Linked DNA regions of Homo sapiens. The protein of the gene in region 4 purifies or fractionates together with the protein of the main gene of each other region. This does not show direct contact. Each region holds a gene or a part of one and is shown on either strand. Other genes may lie near its edges.

Region 1 (3,500 bases), on a different chromosome or scaffold from region 4:
ATCCTATGTTTTCTTTTTTTTTTGAGACTGAGTCTTGCTCTGTCGCCCAAGCTGGAGTGCAGTGGTGCAGTCTCGGCTCACTGCAACCTCCACCTCCTGGGTTTGAGCGATTCTCATCTCAAACTCCTGACCTAAGGTGATCCACCCACCTTAGCCTCCCAAAGTGCTGGGAATTCAGGCATGAGCCACTGCACCCGGCCGTGATATTATCCTATGTTTTCTTCTGAAAGTTTTATAGTTTAACATTTCATGTTTAAATCCATTTTAAGTGGACATTGATTTCACAAATAATCCATTTTACATTGATTTTTAAAAAATACTGTGTGAGGTTTAGGTCAAGGTTCATTTTTTTGCCTATGATGTTCAATTGTTCCAGCCCTATTTTTAGAGAAAGAAAAAAAAAAACTATCCTCCCTCCATTGAATTGTTTTTGCACTTTTGTTAAAAATCAGTTGGGCATATTTGTGTTAATCTATTTCTGGGTTCTCTATTCTGTTCCATTGATCTGTCTGTTCCTCTGCCAATACCGCAGTGTTTTGATTAATGCAGCTATATAGTAAGATTTAACAGTAGGTGGAATGATTCCTCAACCCATGCTTTCTTTTTCCAACATTTTAGTTATCCTAAAATGTTCTAGTTTTTACTATTCTAGCTCTATTCATGCTGCTTATCCTTGCTTTTAAGGTCTTCCCCATACCTAGTAGAGGTATGGTAGCCTGGAGAAGAAAGGGGAAAAAAGAAAGAATCATGAAGGAAAAAAACAAATATTATATAACTACTACCCTAAAACATTACTCATGTAATTTTTATCCATCCATCCTTCAATGGAGTCCCAATTTCTCCATGAAAGGTTCTCTACTATTCCAAGCCATCTCTCTATGTGGTAGCTCATTAACCACAAGTCATTTGTTTCCTTCTGTTAGATATTTGTAAATATCTTTTGTGTCAACTCATCAAGGGACAGGGTCCATGTTTCAGACTTCTTTTTTTTTTTTTTTTTTGAGACAAGGTATCACTCCATTGCCCAGGATGGAGCACAGTGGCACGACCACAGCTTACTGCAGCCTCGACCTCCTGGGCTTAAGGTATCCTCTCAGCTCAGCCTCCCATGTAGCTAAGACTGCAGGCATGCACCAGCAACCCGGATAATTTTTGGTATTTTTTGTAGAGATGGGGTTTCACCATGTTGCCCAGGTTGGTCTCAAACTCCTGAGCTCAAGCAATCTGCCTACCTTGGCCTCCCAAAGTTCTGGGATTGCAGGTGTGAACCACCACACCTGGTCTAGACTTCTTTATATCACTTCATAAGTTTCAATAAACATTTAATTAATTATTTATCTAATTATAGTTTACAACAGAGAGATCCTAGAAAATCTAGATGAACAAGAGTAACAATGAGCTAAATGCTCCTCTATTCCTAGTAACAGAATCATTATCTCACCAAACCTCAAGATTTTTAACCTCATTTCTCATTTAGTGTTAAAGAATATATGTCACATCTAGGCTGTTTTTCCCTTTTCTTGACAAGATGTCTTAGGTAAAGAGATCAGTGAATAGCAAATTATGGTGGTTTCCTTTTTTTTTTTCCTGCTGTTTGCTAACAAAGTCACCATTCACGTAAACTTTAGGGCTATTAGACATGATTCACCCCTAACATACCATGTAGCTTTATTCGAAAAGTAAATGGCTCCAGCCTGGGCAACAGAGCAAGACTCTGCCTCAAAAAAATAAAAATAAAAAAACAAAAAAAATACAGCTGCTTAATCCTTGATTTTAGTTATAATTTACAATAATCATTACCTGCTTAACCTCTGGATCAAATGCCTGCTCCTTTGCTGAAATAACTGTGTACAGTGTATATACAAATATATACAGATACATATCCACACCCCAAAAGTTTCTTCATTGGCTGTCTATGAGTTTAGGCTGTTTAAATAATTTGCAACACATTATTGTAGTAAATAGAATAAAATTATATGCAGATTAGCTCTTTCTTTTCTTACAAAATACAGCAACACATACATGCTAGGACAACTTTGCAAAAACTTACTTATTCTGTGCCTTTCCAGTTCTGTCACTGTACTATAGTACTACAAGGCAGGTTAGGCAACAATTAGGAAAGTTTCAGAACCATTAGTCTCACAAACTTTCATCTAGGATGCCTCTGGTGGCCTCTGAAGAGATCTTCTCCAAACCCTCATCTGATGCTATTGCAACTAAGTAGACGAACTACGGTTCTCAGAATATACACATTAATAAGGCTCTTTTTAGCTTCACCCTTTTCACTTCTGTGCTTTATGATGGACTACAATACTCATAATGCAATACTACAGCCCCTATCATTGACACTATCATTTCCATCAAACACAAAGAAACCTCCTTCTGGATTACCAAAAACTAAGAAATCTGGGCCAGGCGCAGTGGCTCATGCCTGTAATTCCAATACGTTGGGAGGCGGAGGTGGGCAGATCATGAGGGCAGGAGCTAGAGACCATCGTGGCCAACATGGTGAAACCCCTTCTCTACTAAAAATACAAAAATTAGCTGGGCGTGGTGGCACATGCCTGCAATCCCAGTTACTGGGGAGGCTGAGGCAGGAGAATTGCTTGAACCAGGGTGTCAGAGGTTGCAGTGAGCCGAGATCAGGCCACTGGGCACTCCAGCCTGGCGATAGAGCGAGACTCTGTCTCAAAAAAAAAAAAAAAAAAAAAAAAAAAAACTTAAGAAATCTCTTAGTTCTAGTGTTATGAGAACTAGGAGTAACCTGAACTCAGAAGTTGTTTATGAGAGTATAAACTGGTACATTCACTTTAGAAAGCATTCTAAAGATAAACATGTGCACATCCAACAATTACGCTCTTGTTTTTATATCCTCGTGACATGAACACCAAAAGATATGCAAACATATTTATAACAGCATTTTTCATAATATTAACAAATGCAACAACCCAAATGTTAATTACAAGATGACTGTGAGGCCCGGCGTGGTGGCTCACGCCTATAATCCCGGCACTTTGGGAGGCTGAGGTGGGCAGATCACGAGGTCAGGAGTTCAAGACTAGCCTGGCCAATATGGTGAAACCCTGTCCCTACTAAAAATACAAAAATTAGCCAGGCATGGTGGCGGGCGCCTATAATCCCAGGTACTTGGGGGGCTGAGGCAGGAGAATTACTTGAACCCGGGAGGTGGAAGCTGCAGTGAGCCGAGACTGTGCCACTGCACTCCAGCCTGGGCAACAAGAGTGAAACTCTGTCTGAAAATAAATAAACAAACAAAAGATGACTATGGTATATTCACACAACAGAATTTCACACACAGTAAAAACCTAATGAACTACAGTTAAACACACAACATGGATGAATCTCAGAAACCATGAATTTTAAAAAGGAAGTCACATAAGGTCATATGCAATAAACTATCATATTTGTACATTGCAAAGAAACCAGTAAAATGAAACATTATTATTTAGAAAAATAACAATGTAATTTTACTTATTTCA
Region 2 (4,035 bases), on a different chromosome or scaffold from region 4:
AGGGGGGCCAGGTAAAGTTTGCCACGGATGTCCAGCTGGAGGGAAAAAAATACACACAAGTGGAGCTTGGCCTCCACCCCAGCTGCTGAGGCCCTGGAGCCTCCCTTCTACCCACAGTCTAGGACACACTTGGCCCAAATGGTCTGGCTCCTTTGCTGGGCCTCTGCATGTGCCAATCAATCCCTTCATCAGGAATGTTCCTTTCCTCATCGTCTCCTCCACTGGAGAGCTTCTACTTAACCATCCAAACCCAGTCCCAATGCCCCCTCTTCCAGGAAGCCTCCCACATTTGTCCCCCGCTGCCCGACCCTGACCCTCTGAGACTTAGAGTGTGTCCAGCTCTTTTTTTTTTTTTTTTTTTGAGATAGAGTCTTGCTCTGTTGCCCAGGCTGGAGTGCGGTGGCACAATCTTGGCTCACTGCAACATCCGCCTCCTGGGTTCAAGTGATTCTCCTGCCTCAGCCTCCTGAGTGGCTGGAATTACAGGTGCCCGCCACCAGGCCCGGCTAATTTTTGTATTTTTAGTAGAGATAGGGTTTCACCATGATGGCTAGGCTGGTTTTGAACTCCCGACTTCAAATGATCTGCCTGCCTCAGCCTCCCAAAGTGCTGGGATTACAGGCGTGAGCCACCGCCCCCGGCCCTGTCCAGCTCTTTCTGTCCCCACCTCCTGAGGGCTGGGCCCAGGACAGAGCACAGAGAGGGAGACTCAGCCAGGAGCTCCCTCAAGGCACACAGCCTCTGACTCCCAGGCAGCTAGAACAGGAACGTGGACACAGCTGGTATTTAATAGACGCACACCAGATGGACAGATCTGCTACTGACGTTGTCCTCAACACGTACCCGCTTCTTCTCACAGGGCCGCAGCCTGACCACGTCCTCATCCGTCAGGGGCCCGCAGGTCCGCACGGGGCTGCTGGGAGGGGTGCTAGTGCCCGGCCCTGCGGGGACCTGCTGGGCACCACAGTTTTCCTGCCTGGGAGCGCCCTCGGCTGCCGTGCCCTCGGGGACAGCGGCAGCGGGTGTGGGGCCCTGGCTGAACCGGCGCAGGGCCTGCTCAGCTCGCTCGAAGCGGACCTCGCGCTTCCGCAGCTGCTGCTGCAGGGCTTTGTCCAGGCCGTTGCGGATGGACGGGGGCTGGGTCCCGCGGGCCGCCAACTCCTCCTGCACCAGGTTCTGTCCCTCGGGCCTCAGGTGGGCCCCAGCGAAGCGGCAGGTCACGCCGTAGGGGCACCGGCCGAAGGTCTCGAAGAGCACGCAGCGGGGGCCCAGGTCGGCCGGCTTGGTCTCCAGGTAGCGCCCCACGTCGTGCAGAAAGCGGCAGCGATCACCGAAGAAACACTTAGCAGCCGACTCCTGCGAGGAAACAGGGAAGCAGTGAGGGAGGACAGGGAGACCCCGGGGCAGCCCAGCAGCCAGGGTTCAAACTCTAGATCACCCCTCCTGGCTCTTGTGTCCCTGAGCAAGTCAGGCACCTCACCGTGCCTCTGCATCTCCATTTATACAATGAGAACAATGACAAGCCCTACAATGTATCCCGAGGAGAATGAAGACGGAATGGCATCAGAGCAAGCTCACTGCTCGTTGCTGAAGGCCCAGGAGCTTTCTAACAATTACCCGCTGCCAGGAAACACACCCTGCTCCTGCCTGCCCCGGCAGGAATGCTCACGTGGCCGCACTTGCCTGGATTAGGGAGGGACACAGCCTGTTCTTGTCGTAGTTCGTGGGCTTCACATGGGGCCGGCCCTTGTTTTGTCCCCGGGCCCTCTTCTGAGTCTGTAGCTGCTCCCCGGGCTCTGCTGCCTCCTCCGTCTGCCCGTCCGCCGTCTGTCCATCCTCCAGTCGGATCCGCTTAGCCTCAGGCTCAGCCAGCTCATTGCCAGCAGGGTCTCCTACCTCGGTTTCCCGGCAAGTCTTCTCCTGCCCTTTGGCTTCCAGGAATTGGTGAAACTGCTCCTTGGTGGTGAGGTATCTGCCGACAGAAAGGGAAAGGAAAACCCTCCGAACATAGTCAATAAACACTGGGGAAAGGAGGCTAGAAACACTTGCACGTCCTTAAATCCTTCTGCTGATGGGGAGCTCACTACTTAAGAACCAGCCAGCTCCCAGCCTGGGAGCCCCTCACGGCCTCAAAAAAGACCTATTTTGTCCCTGGGTCCTCACTGTCCAAAGTGTTGCGCGAAACTATTATCAGGTTCAGTCAAGAACGTCCCTGCGCACGTTAGGCTGCGAAAAACTACAATTCCCAGCATGCCTTGAAGCGGAGTCTAAGCCACCACATTTCCCAGCACGCCTTTCGGCCCTTCAAACACCGCAGGCCCCAGCACGCCCCGCGGCACTCGCTTCAACCCCAAGACCCGCCAGTAACGGCCGCTGGCAGAGCACATGCGCCGTACGTCCATATGCAGGGACTACAATCCCCAGTATGCAGCGCGGGCCTGGCCTCAAATCCCACCTGCCCTAGCATGCACGTGGTGTCCTTCGCGCATGTGACAGGCCCCAACGTGCACGATCTCAGGTACCTCCGCTGACCACCCTGCAGGCGGAAGAACGGCCCGGAATGAAGAGCCGGTGGCTTCTCGCCCTCAGCCGCTGCCTAATCTCCCGGCATGCACAGCTCGGACCGCGCTATGGGTGCCGGAAAAGGCCCTTCAGCTTCCCTCCTGCCCCGGCGACTCACTGACGCTTAATGGGCGCCACTCCTCGTTCCAAAGCTCCGGCTCCCGAGTCGCCACCACCACCATTCTCTAGAGGAGCCTCCGCCGTTCCCTCCGCCATCGGCGCCCCTCACATCCGCTCTGGAGTGTGGCGGGAAGACCTTCCGGGTCACGCGTGTCTTCCCTGATTGTGCTGGGGAAGTGCGCATGCTCATGTCGTTCCAATGACGCCATTGCTCGCTCGTGACGCCACGGGGGCGGTGCCTGCACATGGGTGGAGCCTCAGGTCCTATATAAACTAGAGCCTGGCCAATTGCGAACTGGACTGCAATCAGCTTCTGGACTGAGGAAATTTAACTGTTAGGGTGTTTTGGAGGTTTTTGTCTTTGTTGTTCTGTTGAAACGGTTTCGTTCTGTCGCCCAGGCTGGAGTGCAGCGGTACGATCACGACTCACCGCAGCCTCGTCCTGGGCTCAAGCTATCCTCCCACCTCAGCCTCCCAAGTAGCTGCGTCTACAGACATGCACCAATAGGCCTGGATAATTTTTAAATTTTTTGTAGAGACGAGGTCTTGCCAGGTTGCCCAGGCTGATCTTGAACTCTTGGGCTCAAGCGATTCTCCCACTTTGGCCTCCCAAGCATTGGGATTACAGGCGTGAGCCATGGTTCCCGGCCCCTGCTAGGGTTTTTAAAAATGTAAATTAGGGGTCGGGAGCGGTGGCTCACGCCTGTAATCCCAGCACTTTGGGAAGCCGAAGCGGGCGGATCACTTGAGGTCAGCAGTTTGAGACCAGCCTGGCCAACATGGTGAAACCCCGTCTCCACTAAAAATATAAAAAATTAGCTGGGCGTTGTGGCACATACCTGTAATCCCAGCTACTTGGGAGGCTGAGGCAGGAGAATCGCTTGAACCCGGGAGGTGGAGGTTGCAGTGAGCTGAGATCACGCCATTGCACTCCAGCCTGAGGGACAGAGCGAGACTGTCTCTAAATAAATAAATAAATAAGGCCGGGTGTGGTGGCTCACGCCTGTAATCCCAGCACTTTGGGAGGCCGAGGTGGGCACGTCAGGAGTTCGAGACCAGCCTGGCCAACATGGCGAAACCCCGTCTCTACTAAAAATACAAAAATTAGCCAGGCATGGTGATGGGCGCCTGTAATCCCAGCTACTCAGGAGGCTGACGCAGGAGAATCGCTTGAACCTGGGAGGCGGAGGTTACGGTGAGCCGAGATCGGCCGTTTCACTCCAGCCTGGGCGACAGAGCAAGACTCCATCTCAAAAAAAAAAAAAAAAAGTAAATTACACTACTTTTATGCAGGACATTAGTTTCAACAAATAATTAGTTGAGCATCTGTATGCCAGATGCTGTGCTAGATGC
Region 3 (3,500 bases), on a different chromosome or scaffold from region 4:
GTAATCCCAGCACTTTGGGAGGCCAAGGCAGGCGGATCACTTGAAGTCGGGAGTTCGGGACCAGCCTAGCCAACATGGTGAAACCCCATCTCTACTAAAAATACAAAAATTAGCCCGGCATGGTGGTGGGTGCCTATAACCCCAGCTACTTGGAAGGCTGAGGCAGGAGAACCGCTTGAACCAGGGAGGCGGAGGTTGCAGTGAGCGGAGATGGTGCCATTGCACTCCAGCCTAGGGGACTGAGCAAGACTGTGTCTGGAAAAACAAAAATCTCCAGAAACATTCCCACCCCCTCCATACAGCCAGCTCTGAGTCACTGGCTGCTGGCTGGCCAGTCACACAGCACCATGGACATGCAGAGGTACCAGTGGGCACTTGGTGTGTGCTGCCCAGATGAGGACACAGAGTTAGTCAGAAGATTCTCGGGCAAATGGATCCAAAACAGTCCTGGAATGCAAATGTGAAGTATTTCCACAGCCGTGGCAGGAACACATAACTGGCACTATTTATAAGCGATAAAAGGGTTATTTCATGCATCCTCTTTAAGCTGCAAATGCTTCATTTACAAAAGAAAAAAACCTGTCCTTTTCATTCATGAGACTGGCTTAAGGATCAAATGAGATCTGTTTTTAATATAAAGATGTTTTCTTAAAATCTCTGTATGAAATTATCTCCGGAGAGATAGATTCACCATGTTTGCCCTGAGATTTAGAGGCCTCTGCCTGCCACTCCACACCCTGTTTGTGAAGGCCCAAGTCACTCACTATGCAAAGAAGTCATTCCCTCTAGTTAGTGTTAAAACCAGTTATGGGTCTTCCTGGCATGGTGGATAATCCACACGTGGATAATCAAGAGTTGACTATATGGGTTCCTCCCTCCCCTCCCCTTCCACCAGGGATCCCTGACAGAGGCCACAGCGAGACTCTTCAGCGGATGTAGATCATGTCGGAGATGGCTCCAGGCAAGTGGGTCATGATCTGCATTCGCAGCCACCAGTAGTAGTCCATGGGGTGGTAGCGGGTGTAGGGGGTGGTGGCGGTCAGGGCGTGTGTGACAGCATCGATGACAGGGGACGTGTCTGTGGAGCCACTGCTGCAGTAGGTCTCCATCTTGGCGATCTTTTCATCAAAGTACTTCTTGCCGTAGTCCTTGCGCACGACCTCAGGCAGCTCCTCCCACATCTTCTTGGCGATGGCCTGAATGCTCTCAGGGCTGTAAAGGCTGGTGGCAGCGATGAAGTTGCCGGGCTCCACCACGCTGACCTTCACGCCCAGGGGGTACATCTCATAGCGCAGGCAGTCCGAGAAAGCCTCTACCCCGAACTTGGTGATGCAGTACGGGGAGCGGGCCGGGTTGGCCATGCGGCCCAGCATGCTGCTGATATTGACGACGCGGCCTACAGAGGGAGACAGAGGTACCTGCTAAGCCGTTACTGCCCTATGACACAGCGGGCAGAAGTCTGGCATGTCTCTAGAGGCTTGGCTGGAACCACTTCTGAGCCACCCAGGAGCCTTCTCAGTCAATAGGCAAGGCCAGCTCAGGCCCACGCATCAGCATCGGCACCCCTGGTCTTCCCTGGGAACCTGGCTGTGCCAGGCAGGACAGGGGAGGACAAGTGAGTGAGAAGCAGCAGGGCACAGTGTAATGGGCAACACGCAACTGACTCAAAAACCAGATCAAGCCCGATGCGGTGATAATTTGGGGTGAAAACACGAGGGGAGAAGTGGGAGGCGAGACAGCTGTCTGTGTGGATCTGAGCTTTCACTATAGGCAAGGTCTGGTGCTGGTGAGGGAGAAATACAGCCTGAAAGCTTCCCCTTCCCCTTATGGAGCTTAAAGTCCAGCTCCAGTAGTACGACGTGCAGATAAGTAGCACACTAGGGCCAAGTGTCTAGCCACTGACAGCAGCCCTGGCGATGGGGGTTGGAGTGCAGACGAGGAAGTACCTGGGGCTGCAGCTGGGAGGGAGCCCCGGGACAGCCCTGAAAGAGGACAGGACCCGTGCTGTTAGGCCCAACTCCCCAACTCCATTCCACCCTGGTAGGGTGGAGCCTGGGTGGAGACCAGGACCGCCTGGCAAACAGAGCAGCAGGCAGGGGCAGGGGCAGGATTTCTGAACCTGACTTCAGGGCTAGGATATGAGGAGAGAGTCCTGGGCACTGGGAGAGTGTGGTGATCCCCCTCCAAAGGCCACAGGCCCAGCCTGGGGGCATCAGGGGCCTCCCACAGCTCCTCCTGGCCCTGGGAACAGAGGGGTTGGAAGTGGATTGCATTTGGCCCAGCCCGGGAAGCCGAGGCGGATCTGGGACCAGTTTTCCTGGGAGGGAACTCAGCCCATCCAGGTGTGTCCCGGGGAGGGCACTCAGCCCATCCAGGTGTGTCCCCGGGAGGGCACTCAGCCCATCCAGGTGTGCCCCCGGGAGGGCACTCAGCCCATCCAGGTGTGCCCCCGGGAGGGCCCTCAGCCCATCCAGGTGTGCCCCCGGGAGGGCACTCAGCCCATCCAGGTGTGCCCCCGGGAGGGCACTCAGCCCATCCAGGTGTGTCCCCGGGAGGGCACTCAGCCCATCCAGGTGTGTCCCCGGGAGGGAACTCAGCCCATCCTGGGGGAGGCACCTTTCAGAAAGCTCTAAATTTGAAGTCACTGAAGGGTTGGGGTTTCCATCTAAAATCCTACAGCTGCAGTCTGTGTTCATGCTTGTTGTTGCTAGGACTTCACCATAGATGTATGGATCTTACCCTTTTTGCCACAATTGTTTGCTATGCCAGAGAAAAAAATCCAAGTCAATGACTTCTAAAGTGGTTTGCTCACATTTGGCCACCCACATGGTTTGGGTGTTTTGTTGGTTTTCCAAATTTCTAATCTTGATTTTTACTATTGTTCCCTAATACCACAATGATCTCATTTTTTAAACTACGATATAAATAACCCATAGAATGAATATGCCAGATTTTACTAACCACACCTGACTGATACAAAGATGTGTACACACAGCTTTGTGCAAAGGGTGATTCTCTCTATAGATTAGGTGTGCAGAGTGGATGGCTGCTCAACTCTTTAAGCTTTTGCTGCATGGACCACTGACCTCTTACCTGCTCTGCTTCCTCCTCCCCTACCCGGCCACAGCCCCTCTGCCCACCATCACCCCAGGCCCAGCATAGTCCCTGGGATTCACGAGCTCACCTCTGCTGAGTTGTGGACATTGGAGCTGCTGGGACAGGTATTTCCATTCTGAGCAAAGATGAACACGTGGGGCAGGTTCAGGGGCAGGAGGGAGCTCCCTTTCCCACTCACCTTTGGCCCTTCGGATGAGGGGGAGAAAGGATTTCGTCATCCGCACTGTGCCCCAAAGGTTCACTTCTGCCACCTGCTTGTAGGTCTCCAGGCTGGTGAACTCCACCTCCCCGAACGTTGAGATGCCGGCATTGTTAACGAGGCCCCACATGCCTGGACAGGAGAGGGATAGATGTGCATTTACCACATGGGCTTGGCCCAGACA
Region 4 (3,500 bases):
GTACTATTAAAGAGTATGCAGTGAGGCAGCTGACAATGAAATTTTTCATAAAAATGTATAAAAAGGCTATGTTAAGTTTGGGTGGAAAAAACAATGCACCACCATATTACTACCAGCAGTCACGATGTCCTGTCTCAGATTTTAGGAGTCACCGATCTGGTTGGGAGAAATGCTGAGGGATGATCAAGCCATCAATAGCGATCTAAGGAGTGCACACAGTTCAGGAAATGGATAAACAGGTGCCCAGGAAGGCAACTTTAATGAAACTGGTTCTAAAACAAAGGATACAAGAGACCTAAATGATCCAAAAAGAGTGATGGCTTCTCATTTTCTGTCCCCTATAGAGAATATAAATATCATTTCTTCTGGAATCCAACACACTGGATTCATTTTCAAGATGTATCACTTTATTTTCCAGCACGTGACAGTCACATGATTTCTGCAGTGAGCCCCAAAGCTTCCACGAGCTTTCCTGGAACCTACGGCCAGAAGAGTCCTGAGATTTCAAATATTAAAGCTTTCTCCACAGCCACAAGTCCCTTTGATGTTTGGGTTATTGAACACAAACTCACTGGATAATTTGTCTTCAACATAGTCCATTTCTGTTCCTAAAAGTGTTAGCTGTGCTTTCTTTTCGATGAATACTCTGACTCCTTGGAGAAAAGAAAACATGTGTCATGGAAAGCCTGCAGCCTTATGGAACTTGCTGATTCAAAGCACAAGTGAACTTGAAATAGTGACTATCAATGAAAGTCAAACAAGAAGCCTTGAACATTTTAAATTATTTCCTTAAGGAATTAAGCATTCAGTTTCCTGTCTGCCCCTTCTTTCCCACACATGAATTTATGTCACAATCACATTAGGGGAGAATTTTATACAAGTAAATTCCATGACAATTTTATGCAAAATTAGAATTTACCTTTCACTATACTTCACTCATTTTTCCAGTTTGCAACATGAAGAAAATGTATATTCTCGATGAGTTTTATGAAATAAAAAAAAATTTATGAAAATTCTGCAATACACTAGATACACGGATTCAAGCTTAAAGATGTACAAAGGACTGTGATACAATGGGGCTATTTTAATAACATCAATCAGTACAACAATAGTCTTTTCTGGTTACAGGACGGAAAACAGGTACTATTCCCTAGTAATTACACAGGTAGAGGTCAGCATCTTTGTAAATACAATCTTTTTTTTTTTGGACAGAGTCTCACTCTGTCACCCCGGCTGGAGTGCAGTGGTATGATCATGGCTCACCACAAGCTCCACCTCCCAGGCTCAAGCGATCCTCCCACAGGATTACAGGCACATACCACCAGGACCAACTAATTTTTTTAGAGTCAGGGTTTCACCACGTGGCCCAAGCTGGTCTTGCATTCCTGGGCTCAAGTGATCCTCCCACCTCGGCCTCCCAAAGTGCTGGGATTACAGGTGTGAGCCACAGTGCCCAGCCAACAAATACAATCAATTTAAGAAAGCTTTCTAGTCTGGGAAACAGGGCAAAACCCTGGCTCCACTAAAAATACAAAAATTAGCCGGGCACAGTGGTGGGCACCTGTAGTCCCAGCTACTCGGGAGGCTGAGGTGGGAGGACTGCTTGAGCCCGGGAGACAGAGGCTACAGTGAACCATGATTGTGCCACTGCACTCCAGCCTGGGTAAGAGAGCAAGACTCTGTCTCAACAAACAAACAAAACAACGAAACAACAAAAAAACTTTCTTCCTTACAAGAAATTGAGCCATTAGCTAAATATAAACAATATATAATTAAGTCACCTCTTCTTTAAGATGAAAATCTTAAGGTTTATAATGTGTTATAATTTTTAAAATAATACATTTTTAAAAGGTCTTTATTGATAGTTATAACTTTAGTTTAATAAGAAAGCACACTTAGGAATCTAGGCCTCATTCTCCCATGTAGGTAAGAACTGCAAGCTAAGTGCATACTTCCAATGACAAGATAAATTATTTATTTTAGATAGGTTTTAACAGATTATAGGGTGGAAGAAGGGGGCAGCAGCAAATATAATTAATTTTAATTATAAATTAAATTATAATAAATAGCTTTGAATAAAAATTGGAAATACAGGATTCCTCAAAAACATGAGTTGATAATACAGCTCCACTAAAAATACAAAAATGAACCAGGCATGGTGGTGGGCGCCTATAATCCCAGCTACTTGGGAGGCTGAGGTGGGAGGATCGCTTGAACCAGGGAGGTGGAGGTTGCAGCAAGCCGAGATCACACCACTGCACTCCAGCCTGGGTGAGAGAGCGAGACCATCTCAAATTAAAAAAAAAAAAAAAAAAAGGATTATAATGGAGCTGAAAATTCCCATTGCCTAGCAATGCTGTAGCCACCATAATATCACAAGACAACCCATTACTCAGGTGTTTGTGGTGATGCTGGTGTAAACAAACCTATACTGCCAGTCATATAAAAGTCTAAGCATGTTCAATTATGTACACTACATAATACTTGATAATGATAATAAATGGTTATGTTACTGCTTTATGTATTTACTATACTTTTTATTGTTTAAAATTTTAGAGTGTACTTCTACTTATAAAAAAAAAAGTTAACCGTGAAACAGCCTGAGGCAGGTTCTTCAGGAGGTATCCAGAAGAAGGCATCATTATCACAGAAGATGACAACTCCATGAGTGTTACTGCCCCTGACGGCCTTCCAATGGGATGAGGGGAGGTGGTGGAAGACAGGGATATTGATGAACCTGACCCTGTGGAGGCCTAAGTTAATACGTGTGTTTTTGTCTTAGTTTTTAATTAAAATGTTTATAAAGAAAAAATTAAAAATAGAGAAAAGCTTATAGAATAAGAACGTAAAAAATTTTTGTTATTTGTACAATGTGTTTCAAAGCTAATGTTATCACAAAAGAGTCAAAAAAAAAAAAAAAAACCCCAAAGCTTACAAAGTAAAAAAGTTTCAGTAAACTAAGGTTAATTTATTATTGAAGACTAAGTGTACAAGGTTTATAAGGTCTATAGTACTACGGAGGAACGTCCTAGGCTTTCACATTCACTTATCACTCCCTACTCACTCACTGACTCACGCGGACAACTTCCAGTCCTGCAAGTTCCATGCATGGTAACTGCCACAAACAGGTGTACCATGTTTTATTTTCTTCTTCTTCTTCCTTTTTTTTTCTTTTTTTTAAGAGATGGAGGTCTCGCTATGTTGCCCAGGCTTAAGGGCAGTGGCTATTCACAGGTAAGAACACAGTGCACTATGATGTCTTTTTTTCTTTTTTGAGACAGAGTCTCACTTTTTCACCCAGGTTGGAGTGCAATGGCATGGTCTCGGCTCACTGCAACCTCCGCCTCCTGGGGTTCAAGCGATTCTCCTGCCTCAGCCTCCCAGTAGCTGGGACTACAGGCGTGTGCCACCACACCCAGTTAATTTTTTGTATTTTTAGTAGAGATGGGGTTTCACCATGTTGGCCAGGCTGGTCGTGAACTCCTGACCTCATGATCCAC
Region 5 (3,500 bases), on a different chromosome or scaffold from region 4:
CGAAGTGTCCCAGTAGATCAAGAAAGTAAGCTGGCACGGTAGTAGCCTTCCATGCACTTTTTAAAGACTTTTGAGCTATTTGGGAGAGGAAAAGTTTTCAGGGAAAAAAATTCTTTAAACTTAAGCAAACTTAAATGTTTTTCCTTCTTTGAATAATTAATACTTGTGGCTTTAAAACTTTTCCTAATAGGCCCAGCTTCCCGATCAGTGGAGACGTTGAAGGAGATGATTAAGTCTGGAATGAATGTGGCTCGTCTGAACTTCTCTCATGGAACTCATGAGGTGAGCTGTGGCTGGACCCTATGGCCATTGTGATGGCCTGTAGGAAACAGGGAGGGGGTGCAGTGTTCGTTTAGCCACAGTGGACTAGACAAGGATGAGTCTGAGTTTCACAGTCAGTGTGAAGTTTGTCTTTACTAGCCCATCCCTACTCTCCTTCCCTCTTGTCCTGACAAAGCAACTGGCTGAGTCTCTTTTAGCAAAAAGGACCCCCTTTGTTGCTGGCTGTGGTTCTCCCACACACCTCTCCTACCCTTAGCTTTTACAAAGGAAGATATGGAAAGGTTCTACTGGAAAACCCTCTAAGCCTTAGGTGTCCTGGCCACAGCGCTTGACTCTCCTGTCCCAGGGTTTCTGCTTCACCTTGTGTTGCCATGGTAAACCATCTAGCAGATTGATTCTAGCTTAGAACCAAAATAACTGGGCAGGTCCATGAGAACGGTTTCCACTATTCTAAGTTTTGAGGGACTGAGCCTAATGCATAAGCACTATCTGGGGTGTAATACCCCACTTCCTCAGCACTGTATTCTCAGCCTGTGCCTTCCCAGGGGTTCTGGTACATTAAAATAACACCAGTTAGCACTCTTCCCCAGGAGCCTAGTAGGACTGTATTTGTGCTGGGCTCTTTATTAGCTGGCTTTACCTATGGACAGAGGCCTTGCCCAGGAGCCAGGTAGCAGCTGTTGGGATGGCTCCATTCCTGCCTCCATTGCCAGATTTAGAATTAACCCATTCTGAGGAGCTTGGGGTTCCCTGAGGTACCATGACTTATTTATTTTTTTATTTTATAAAACAAAATTTTGCTCTGTCATCCAGGCTGGACTGCAGTGGTATGATTATGGCTAACTGGATCCTTGACCTCCCAGGTTCAAGTGATCCTCTTGCCTCAGCCTCCCGAGTAGCTGGGAATACAGGCATGCACCACCACACCTGGCTAATTTAAAAATTTTTTTGGGGGAAATGAGGTCTCACTATATTGCCTTGGCTGGTCTCAAACTCCTGGGCTCAAGTGATTCTCTCAAATGTTGGGATTACAGGAATGAGCTACCATGCTCAGCCTGGGATTGTGCCTTTTTAAAACCTTCAGACTTAACCATAGGTTTCCCATAGATCATGGGATTTCGTAATGGCATTGATAAGAGGAATTACAGAAGAGGCAAACTTTGCACCTGTCTTGGCTTCTGTATTTCCTGTTGAGAGTAAAGAAAATGCTATCCTGTAAGGCCAATTGCCTTACAGAGGTTGCCCTCTGGCATTTGGAAGTTGGTATTAAGTTTGGACTAAAAATAAAGCCTCAGGAAATGCAATCCAAGAGTGAATTCCTCCTTTTGGGAAACACAAGACTCTTCATCATAGATTCCCTAACCTGTGTTCATAAACAGCCTATGGCCTGGCTAGTGGCTGGCCCTTAAATGTCATGGGGACCTGACCAAGTCCAGCAGACATACCATGTAGGTTAAGACATGTCCCTGTACCTTTTGGAAAATTCTGTAGTTTTCCAAAAGCAAGGGGTCCTTAGCAGGAGTCACCGAGAATTACTTGTTAGAGAATTAAGTGTTAGCTTAGCTTAGAGAGAGCTGAAGACAATGCTGGAGGTCTGTTCGCTGTTGATCCCTGCTGCTGTAGTCTGCCATGGGCTCCTGCATTCAGGGGAAGGAGCAGAAATAGATTTTTAAGAAGTTGACCTTTAAGTAGGCTTTATGGTTCCTTCATCCAGTAAAATAACACCACATAGCTCTAACATGGCAAGGGCGAGTGATACCTGCCACACCTGCTGGATGAGAGCTGGCTCCGATTTTGGTATTTTAAACTTTAAGAGGCTTTTGGAGATTATCTCTACTTTCACTCCTATTCCCAGATTATAATTAAGATTTATTTTTTATTTTTTATCTATTTATTTTTTAAAGATGTCCCTCTTGTGTGTTCATTTTGAAGTTTTAGACCAAGATGAGGTTGTGTGTGGGCTCAGCTTGGAAACTGATCTGAAATTATTCTAATTTATATAATGTAATGTAAACAGTTTCAGCCTTACCATACGTCAGGGCTATCGTTTCATGTGCACCTTTGACTAGGGGCTGGGGCGTACTTTTCCAGTTTCTGACTATTTTAAATGCTCTTCTGAGCAGAACGTTGAGATTACTGTCTTCCCTCTCACTCTGACAGAGGGACATCAAATGTCTGCATCTGATCTTTTAACAGCTTTTTTTTTTTGAGACAGAATCTTGCTCTGTTGCCCAGGCTGGAGTGCACTGGCACAATCTCTGCTCACCACAACCTCTGCCTCCCAGGTTCAAGCAATTCTCATACCTCAGCCTCCTGAGTAGCTGGGATTACAGACCTGTGCCACCACGCCCAGCTAATTTTTTTATATTTTTAGTAGAGACGGGGTTTCGCCATGTTGGCCAGGCTGGTCTTGAACTTGTGACCTCAGGTGATCCGACTGCCTCGGCCTCCTAAAGGCGTGAGCCACCACGCCCAGCCCTCTTTTAACAGCTTTGGCAACTAGTCTTCAGCCCTCACTTTTGGCAGTTCACATGGGCAAGATGCATTCTTGCTGAACATGTGGTTCCATATGCCATGTTTTCCAGATTTATTTATTTATTTATTTATTTATTTAGAGAGGGAGTCTCGCTCTGTCATCCAGGCTGGAGTGCAGTGGCACGATCTTGGCTCACTGCAACCTCTGCCTCCTGGGTTCAAGAGATTCTTCTGCCTCAGCCTCCTAAGTATCTGAGATTACAGGCACCTGCCACCACACCCGACTAATTTTTGTATTTTAGTAGAGACTTGGTTTCACCTTGTTGGCCAGGCTGATCTCGAATTCCTGACCTCAAGTGATCCATCCGCCTTGGCCTCCCAAATTGCTGGGATTACAGGCGTGAGCCACCACACCTGGCCTAGAAATAATGACTTTTAAACAACCTAAATGTAGAGCCTTCCACAGGACAGCATTGATGGATGCTTTACCACATAACATCCCAATAAAGCCACAGCTGAAGTGGAAGACTCAGTACACCTCCCAGAGATGCTCTAAGAGATTATGATATATGACATAGATTTGAATAATATACCTAATAATTGGTATGTTTATAATATATGGTTTTACATCCCCAAGACCAAAAATGCATGTTTGCATGAAACACTCATGGTTACAAAAATATATTAGGCCACCAAAAAAACCCCCACGTTTCATAAAGTAGAAATTATACAGACACATTCTC
Region 6 (3,500 bases), on a different chromosome or scaffold from region 4:
GTGGGCGATATTGGCTCACTGCAACCTCTGCCTCCTGGGGTCAAGTGATTCTCCTGCCTCAGCCTCCTGAGTAGCTGGGATTACAGGCGCCCGCCACCGTGCCTGGCTAATTTTTCTACTTTTAGTAGAGATGGGGTTTCACCATATTGGTGAGGCTGGTCTCGAACTCCTGACCTCGTGATCTGCCAGCCTTGGCCTCCCAAAGTGCTGAGACTACAGGCATGAGCCACCGTGCCCGGCCAAAAATTACATTAGTTATTTTTAAGTGACAACCCCTAAGACCAAATTTCAGCCTCTTGTGAAACCTAAGAATATACTTTGAAACCAACGGGATTATTAATAGGACGTTAGGTAATAAAATGAATTAAAATTAAGTACTTCTAGGAGAATTGGGCCAAAGTCAAAACTGAAGATCTGGCGGCTACAAGACCACATCCAGTTTATGGTACTATGTGTTTAAGTATCCAATGTAATAAGTTAACTGGCTGTGATAAAATAAAAAAAAATTAGAAATCTAGGGAACTGTGCTTCTGTTTGTAGTTCTTTTTAGACCAAAACTTAATTATGAACATAGGTGGGGGAATCCTTTTACTAACAGGATTAGTGACAAACAAGGAATGGAAAATAAGGCATGCGCAAATGAAAAGTTATGAATTTGATATTATGGAATCTGGAGGGGGAGGAAGAGGAAAATATGTGACATTCTTCTCCTGTATTTTTTTTTTAGTGCTGGAACAGCCTGAAAAATTCAGCTGTGTCTCAATTTTTTTCCCTCATACATTTTTCTATTCTAATATTTAATATTTAACATGTAATATTTTTCTAATTAGCTTTAGATTATTAGAATTCTGATTTATGGCTTGTAGGAGGACACATCTTCTTTCTTCCTAACATTTTATAACATGTGAATACTAGAGAAATTTCATTAGGACACATTAGGACACATTATTTTTCCTGTATGTTCATTTTCTGAGGTCAAAGCCTTACTTTTCGTCCCCAGGTTTCTCCGAAAGAACTGTAGTGTCTGGATTTGTTGGCGTATCCCAGGATCTAACTTGATTTTTGAACTCTCTCCTCATTTTCAGTGCTCGTTGGCCTCCAAGCGCTTGCATAGTAAGCCCCCTCCTCATACACATTTTAAAAAAGGGAACATGGCCGGGCATGGTGGCTTATGCCTATAATCCCAGCACTTTGGGCAGCCAAGGCAGGCGGATTACCTGAGGTCAGGAGTTCAAGACCAGCCTGGCCAACATGGTAAAACCCAGTCTCTACTCAAAATACAAAAATTAGCCAGGTGTGGTGGCGCATGCCTGTAATTCCAGCTACTCTGGAGGCTGAGGCAGGAGAATTGCTTGAACCCAGGAGGCAGAGGTTGCAGTGAGCCAAGATCATGCCACTGCACTCCAGCCTGGGTGACAGAGCAAGACAATCTCAAAAAAAAAAAAAAAAAAAAAAACACACAAAGAGACTCAACAAACACAAGAAATATATTCACTTGTTTCTTAGTAAGAGGAGAGAAAGAGGGGGGACTGTTATGCTAAGCAATGGCCTTGGAGCTTTCAAAACATTATTTAATTTTCAAACCCAACAACCCAGCAAAATAGGGATTGTAAGTTACCCCCATTTTAATGAATGAGGCCCTATCCCACCAGGCAGTGCTGTTAATTTGCCCCAAAGCAAAAAGCTGGACAGGCAGCCTGGCACCAGAATCTGTTTCCAATCTACCACACAGTAGAGCAAAGGAAGCAATCTTGGAAATCACCAATTAGATACTCAGAGAAACAGAGCAGGAAATACACGTGCTTGGAACATGCTTGCAGAGAGACCCACAGAAAAGGCGGAAAACAACTTTACATTTGTCAAGTTTTTTTTTTTTTGAGACAGGGTCTTACTTGTCACCCAGGATGGAGTGTACTGGCTCGATCATTGCTCACTGTAACCTTGAACACCTGGCCTTAAGCAATCCTCCTGTCTCAGCTTCCTCTACAGGCATGTGCCACCACGCCTGGCTAATTCAAAAAAATTTTTTTTTTGTAGAGATGCAATCTCTCTACGTTGCCTAGGCTGGTCTTAAACACCTGGCCTCAAGCAATCGTCCCACCTTGGTCTCCCAGAGTGCTGGGATTACAGGCATGAGCCACTGCACTCGGCCTTCAACTATTTTTTACAAAGATGGAAATGTCAATTCTTTTTTTTTCCAGGCTGGAGTGCAGTGGTATGATCTCGGCTCACTGCAATCTCCACCTCCCAGGTTCAAGCGATTCTCCTGCCTCAGCCTCCGTAGTAGCTGGGATTACAAGTGATCGCTGCGCCCGGCTAATTTTTTTGTATTTTTAGTAGAGATGGGGTTTCGCCATTTTGGCCAGGCTGGTTTTGAACTCCTGACCTCAAGTGATCCGCCTGCTTCGGCCTCCCAAAGTGCTAGGATTACAGGCATGAGCCACTATGCCCAGCTGGAAATGTCAATTCTATCATTAGCAAAAAATGGAATCCCTTCTGAAAAATTATTTGGAGAGTTAAATGAAATTCAACTTAGGAACTAAGTTATTCTACTCCAAATTTACTTGACTCAATTGGAATTATTAACACGTGAAAGACCTACAAGAAATTTATGACTGATGGAATTAAAGCCTAGGAAAAAGAAGTGTATAGCATTCATCTACACACTAGGTTAATGAAGCAGAAGACAAACATGTTAAAAACAGGAAGAAAAAAACTTAGCAAATGCCATGCCAATAGACCATACATTTCTCGCTGCAAACTTACCCCTGGCTAGGTTCTTCATATACACATGATCACAAACATGAAAACCTAGATTACAGGATCCTTTAGACACTAAGGCTCAGAACATTCAACATGATTCAATTTATAAAAATAAAAAATGATCCAAGAATATTCACTGCATGTAGCATCAAGTCTGCTTATTCACTCAAAGTAATGAAAGTGAAATGTTTTCAAGTCCTCGTATATGAAGTGCACTAAAAAAAACCTTCATGCATCTCCAGTATTCTCATGATGGAACTGGCAGGATGGCTAATACTTCAGGATTAAATCAGCGTAGCAAAAAAAAAAAAAAAAAAATTAAAACCTAAACCCCATCCCTTTGTGTGTATTTATACACAAAATATAAATCAGAATAAGTCAGACTTTCTCATTCCCACCAGTCTTCAAAAGATGAACTGATGCTTGGGAAACTGCTCAAGTATTTGGAAGAATGCCAGACACATTTCTATGCTCTCACCTTTGAGAAGACTGGGTAGAAATTACTGATCCAATATTTTTCATTAAAAAAATCTTCTTAATTTTTAAAATGTAATTCTTCTTGGGTGCCACCTTCTTGGGTTTGGGATCCAGTATCCTCCAGACCCGTTAATCAATTTAGTGAGCCCTTTTTCTTTTATTCACCATGACACTAATTGTCCCTTTATTTATTTCAGAACCCACTGCTTACTAATACTTATTTTCTAAAAAGAGTGATTCTGCCTGGGCACAGTGGGTCA
Region 7 (2,760 bases), on a different chromosome or scaffold from region 4:
TCTGCTTGCCCATGGTTACTCATGAACTGAGGGGATAGCTTGGCAACTTGGTTAATCATCTTGGGAAAGAAAAACAGACTTCATATCGCCTGACTTGATTGGCCTTTTATAGGAGTATACTGGAGAAATGGTTGTAGAAACAGTATTTACAGCAAAAGGAAACAAATAATGTTCATTTTAAGCAATGTACCATTCACACTGTCCTGCCTTTTCCTCTAGAATTTTATTAATGGTAGAAATTTTTATATGAAATGGGACCAGGACCAGGCTAATATTTTCAGTCCTTAAATATCAAACTCATATGCTGTTATCACTGTGATTTTACTTGTGAAATCATTCCTGTAATGTTTATTGTTTGAAAATGAAATATTGAAATTAGGCTTCCAGAGTAACACTGTCCCCGGAAAAGGATATGAGAAGTGGTGGATGTTGGATGGGGGTGGTTGCACAGTCCTGTGCGGTTCCCATGGCTTTCCAGCGTTTCATTTAGTGAAGGAATGCTCACACTAGATGTAGCACAGCTTCCTGTGGGGCCCGGCAGCAAAGCCCCAGGTGCTCCCTGTCACCTCACAACAAAATGCACTAAGAAACGTAAAGAATAAGAGGAATTAATACCCACCATTAAAGGATGTCCGGCCAACCTATTGTGGAAATTTATAGAATAGTATACACCACAGTTCTGAATAGTGATATCACATAAAAATACATACTAGAGGACCTGCCACGCCATGAGCAGTGTTTTTGCTTTTTGGGGGCCAGTCCCTGGGGTGTGGAGCCGCTAGGGTTTGCACCCATGAAACAGAGAAAAGCCACACCCTCCAAGGTGTGGCTTTCATTTTGGGACTGCTGCAGGGAGGGCAGAGGCATTGCTGAGACTGCCTGGCAACGGCTGATGCCCCAGGTAGGACCTTTTCCAATTCAAAGTGGTGTTCTAAGTCTGCGTCCAACACTGTGTAGGAAAAAGGTTGGTGCAAAAATATTCCTGGTCATCCACCCATTAAAATAGTTAGATGAGGCTATTGCCTTGATGACAGCTGTCCACACTCCTCATGAAATTAACCCGTATGCCGGGGCATTTCCAAATGTCTGACTCGTGAAATTAACCCATACGCAGGGGCCTTTCCAAATGTCTGAAAAGGCAGTGGTGTCTTTTGGGGAAAATGTTATGCATGGAAGCCTGACCTTTTGCTTAGTTGACAGCAATCCCTTCTGTATTGCCAATCAAGGTTCATTTGAGATGCAGAGGAATGAGCTTGAGCCTTCCTCCTTTTCCTTCCGGTTTTATTCTTCCTCTTGGGAACATCCCTCCACTCCGCACTGCTTCCTGCAGCTTTGTAGAGCTGGATTTGGAACTTCGGGATTTGGTTTCTGAGTCTGTGGAGGCACCGACTTCTGCTGTAAGAAAATGAATGTTGTGGAAATTCTTTGGCTACTTAACTAAAACTCGTGACTGTATAAGTTTGGCTACAAATAAGTAAGAAATTAATCATCTGCTCTGTTTCTGCTAATTTCTGGTGTCACTTCAGTAATTCTGGTAGCAGCCGTTGAATCTGTCAGTCTCTTAGGTAACTTCCTGTAAACGATTTGGAAATAGGATGTTTTCAACGTTCTTTTGTCTTTTGCTGAAGTCAGGATAGATTCAAGACATAATCTCTTGTAAGATCTAAATAGAGCAAATGTAAACAAAAGTGCATTTTTGTATTCTTGTTAATTTTAGATGCTTTCCTAGCTTACAAAAAGTTCTGTTTTTGGGTTAAAAATCAATCAACTTTCTGATATTTCCCCTTCTGCAATGTTATTGTTCATAAGAAAACACGAGCTGAAAATGGAAATCTGCAGTTGTTTCAGTTGTCTTGAATTTCTTTCAGTGGCCACATCATTTCCACGTTTTCCACATCCGGGAGGAAGCCTGGACTGTGCAGCCTTCGGGCACCCGGCACAGACACTGTGCTGGCAGGAGCTTCAGACACGCCAAGTGGATGGATTTGGATTGAACGCATATGAAACAGGAGACGGGTTCTCATGTGAGATCAAAGCTCCTCCAAAGCCTGTTCAAGCTCTAAGCGATTCTCAAATGTTACCATTTATTAAAGGTAAACTACACCTGTTGAAGGCCAAGTTCAGGGCAGCTGTTGTGATCTGTGTAGTTAATGTATTTATTAATGCTTGACTTTTAAAATCCTGGGCATAAATAGTGCAGAGCCTCGTATGTTTGTCAGTTCATGCCGAGATGAAATAAATCACGCAGAAAGTGCCAGTCCTCCTGATGTGCCCCGAGTGCTTTTCTCTTTCTCCACAGCGAGCGTCAGATGCGGCTTTTTCTCCTGTGAATCAGGGAGCGTAGCTCTGCCTGCGGGACCCAGGGTTGACACGTCCTGCCCGTTAAGTGAGGAACTGCCCTCACCGGCTCCTGAAGCTCCCCTGGCACAGAGGTTCTAAGTTGGGGTGTCTGTTCCCACTCCCAGGTGCCCTGGATTCCTCGGTCTGCTCACGGGTCCCAGCGGGGGATCACGGCACACCACCTAGGACCTCGGGAACACCAGGATGGGCTGCACAGGAGCAGGTGGAAGCCGAGGCCAGCGCCTAGACTTTGGTTCCTAGGGAAGGCAGGTTGGGGGAGCTGCTTCGCTGCACTGGTTTGTGTCCTTCCAGTGGGCTTTGTGCTATCACGGTGGTCTCCAGTTGCCTGGTACCGGGCCCAGGGGTGATACAGGGCAGGGCTTGTGTGTGAGAGTAGCTGAGGAGGGCTTGGGGGTGTGG

Evidence for each region.
Region 1: the proteins of ISCA1 (region 4) and PDSS2 purify together in Homo sapiens (affinity purification with mass spectrometry; one large-scale study listed by BioGRID and IntAct). This does not show direct contact.
Region 2: the proteins of ISCA1 (region 4) and DUS3L purify together in Homo sapiens (affinity purification with mass spectrometry; one large-scale study listed by BioGRID and IntAct). This does not show direct contact.
Region 3: the proteins of ISCA1 (region 4) and BDH1 purify together in Homo sapiens (affinity purification with mass spectrometry; one large-scale study listed by BioGRID and IntAct). This does not show direct contact.
Region 5: the proteins of ISCA1 (region 4) and PKM purify together in Homo sapiens (affinity purification with mass spectrometry; one large-scale study listed by BioGRID and IntAct). This does not show direct contact.
Region 6: the proteins of ISCA1 (region 4) and MGME1 purify together in Homo sapiens (affinity purification with mass spectrometry; one large-scale study listed by BioGRID and IntAct). This does not show direct contact.
Region 7: the proteins of ISCA1 (region 4) and KBTBD11 purify together in Homo sapiens (affinity purification with mass spectrometry; one large-scale study listed by BioGRID and IntAct). This does not show direct contact.

Annotation. Positions count from the first base shown.
Region 1 is NC_000006.12:107,453,065-107,456,564, forward strand, and holds part of PDSS2 (all trans-polyprenyl-diphosphate synthase PDSS2), read right to left. Parts: intron 1-3,500. UniProt on the Homo sapiens protein: Heterotetrameric enzyme that catalyzes the condensation of farnesyl diphosphate (FPP), which acts as a primer, and isopentenyl diphosphate (IPP) to produce prenyl diphosphates of varying chain lengths and participates in the determination of the side chain of ubiquinone.
Region 2 is NC_000019.10:5,788,364-5,792,398, forward strand, and holds the start of DUS3L (tRNA-dihydrouridine(47) synthase [NAD(P)(+)]-like), read right to left. Parts: upstream 2,801-4,035; 5' UTR 2,779-2,800; coding exon 2,681-2,778; intron 1,973-2,680; coding exon 1,684-1,972; intron 1,357-1,683; coding exon 844-1,356; intron 36-843; coding exon 1-35. UniProt on the Homo sapiens protein: Catalyzes the synthesis of dihydrouridine, a modified base, in various RNAs, such as tRNAs, mRNAs and some long non-coding RNAs (lncRNAs). Mainly modifies the uridine in position 47 (U47) in the D-loop of most cytoplasmic tRNAs.
Region 3 is NC_000003.12:197,510,969-197,514,468, forward strand, and holds part of BDH1 (D-beta-hydroxybutyrate dehydrogenase, mitochondrial precursor), read right to left. Parts: intron 3,449-3,500; coding exon 3,296-3,448; intron 1,397-3,295; coding exon 927-1,396; 3' UTR 1-926.
Region 4 is NC_000009.12:86,265,539-86,269,038, forward strand, and holds part of ISCA1 (iron-sulfur cluster assembly 1 homolog, mitochondrial precursor), read right to left. Parts: intron 654-3,500; coding exon 505-653; 3' UTR 1-504. UniProt on the Homo sapiens protein: Involved in the maturation of mitochondrial 4Fe-4S proteins functioning late in the iron-sulfur cluster assembly pathway. Probably involved in the binding of an intermediate of Fe/S cluster assembly.
Region 5 is NC_000015.10:72,214,191-72,217,690, reverse strand, and holds part of PKM (pyruvate kinase PKM), read left to right. Parts: intron 1-190; coding exon 191-282; intron 283-3,500. UniProt on the Homo sapiens protein: Catalyzes the final rate-limiting step of glycolysis by mediating the transfer of a phosphoryl group from phosphoenolpyruvate (PEP) to ADP, generating ATP.
Region 6 is NC_000020.11:17,972,018-17,975,517, reverse strand, and holds part of MGME1 (mitochondrial genome maintenance exonuclease 1 isoform 2 precursor), read right to left. Parts: intron 2,812-3,500; coding exon of another isoform or gene 2,767-2,811; intron 1-2,766. UniProt on the Homo sapiens protein: Metal-dependent single-stranded DNA (ssDNA) exonuclease involved in mitochondrial genome maintenance. Has preference for 5'-3' exonuclease activity but is also capable of endonuclease activity on linear substrates.
Region 7 is NC_000008.11:2,004,677-2,007,436, forward strand, and holds the end of KBTBD11 (kelch repeat and BTB domain-containing protein 11), read left to right. Parts: 3' UTR 1-2,260; downstream 2,261-2,760.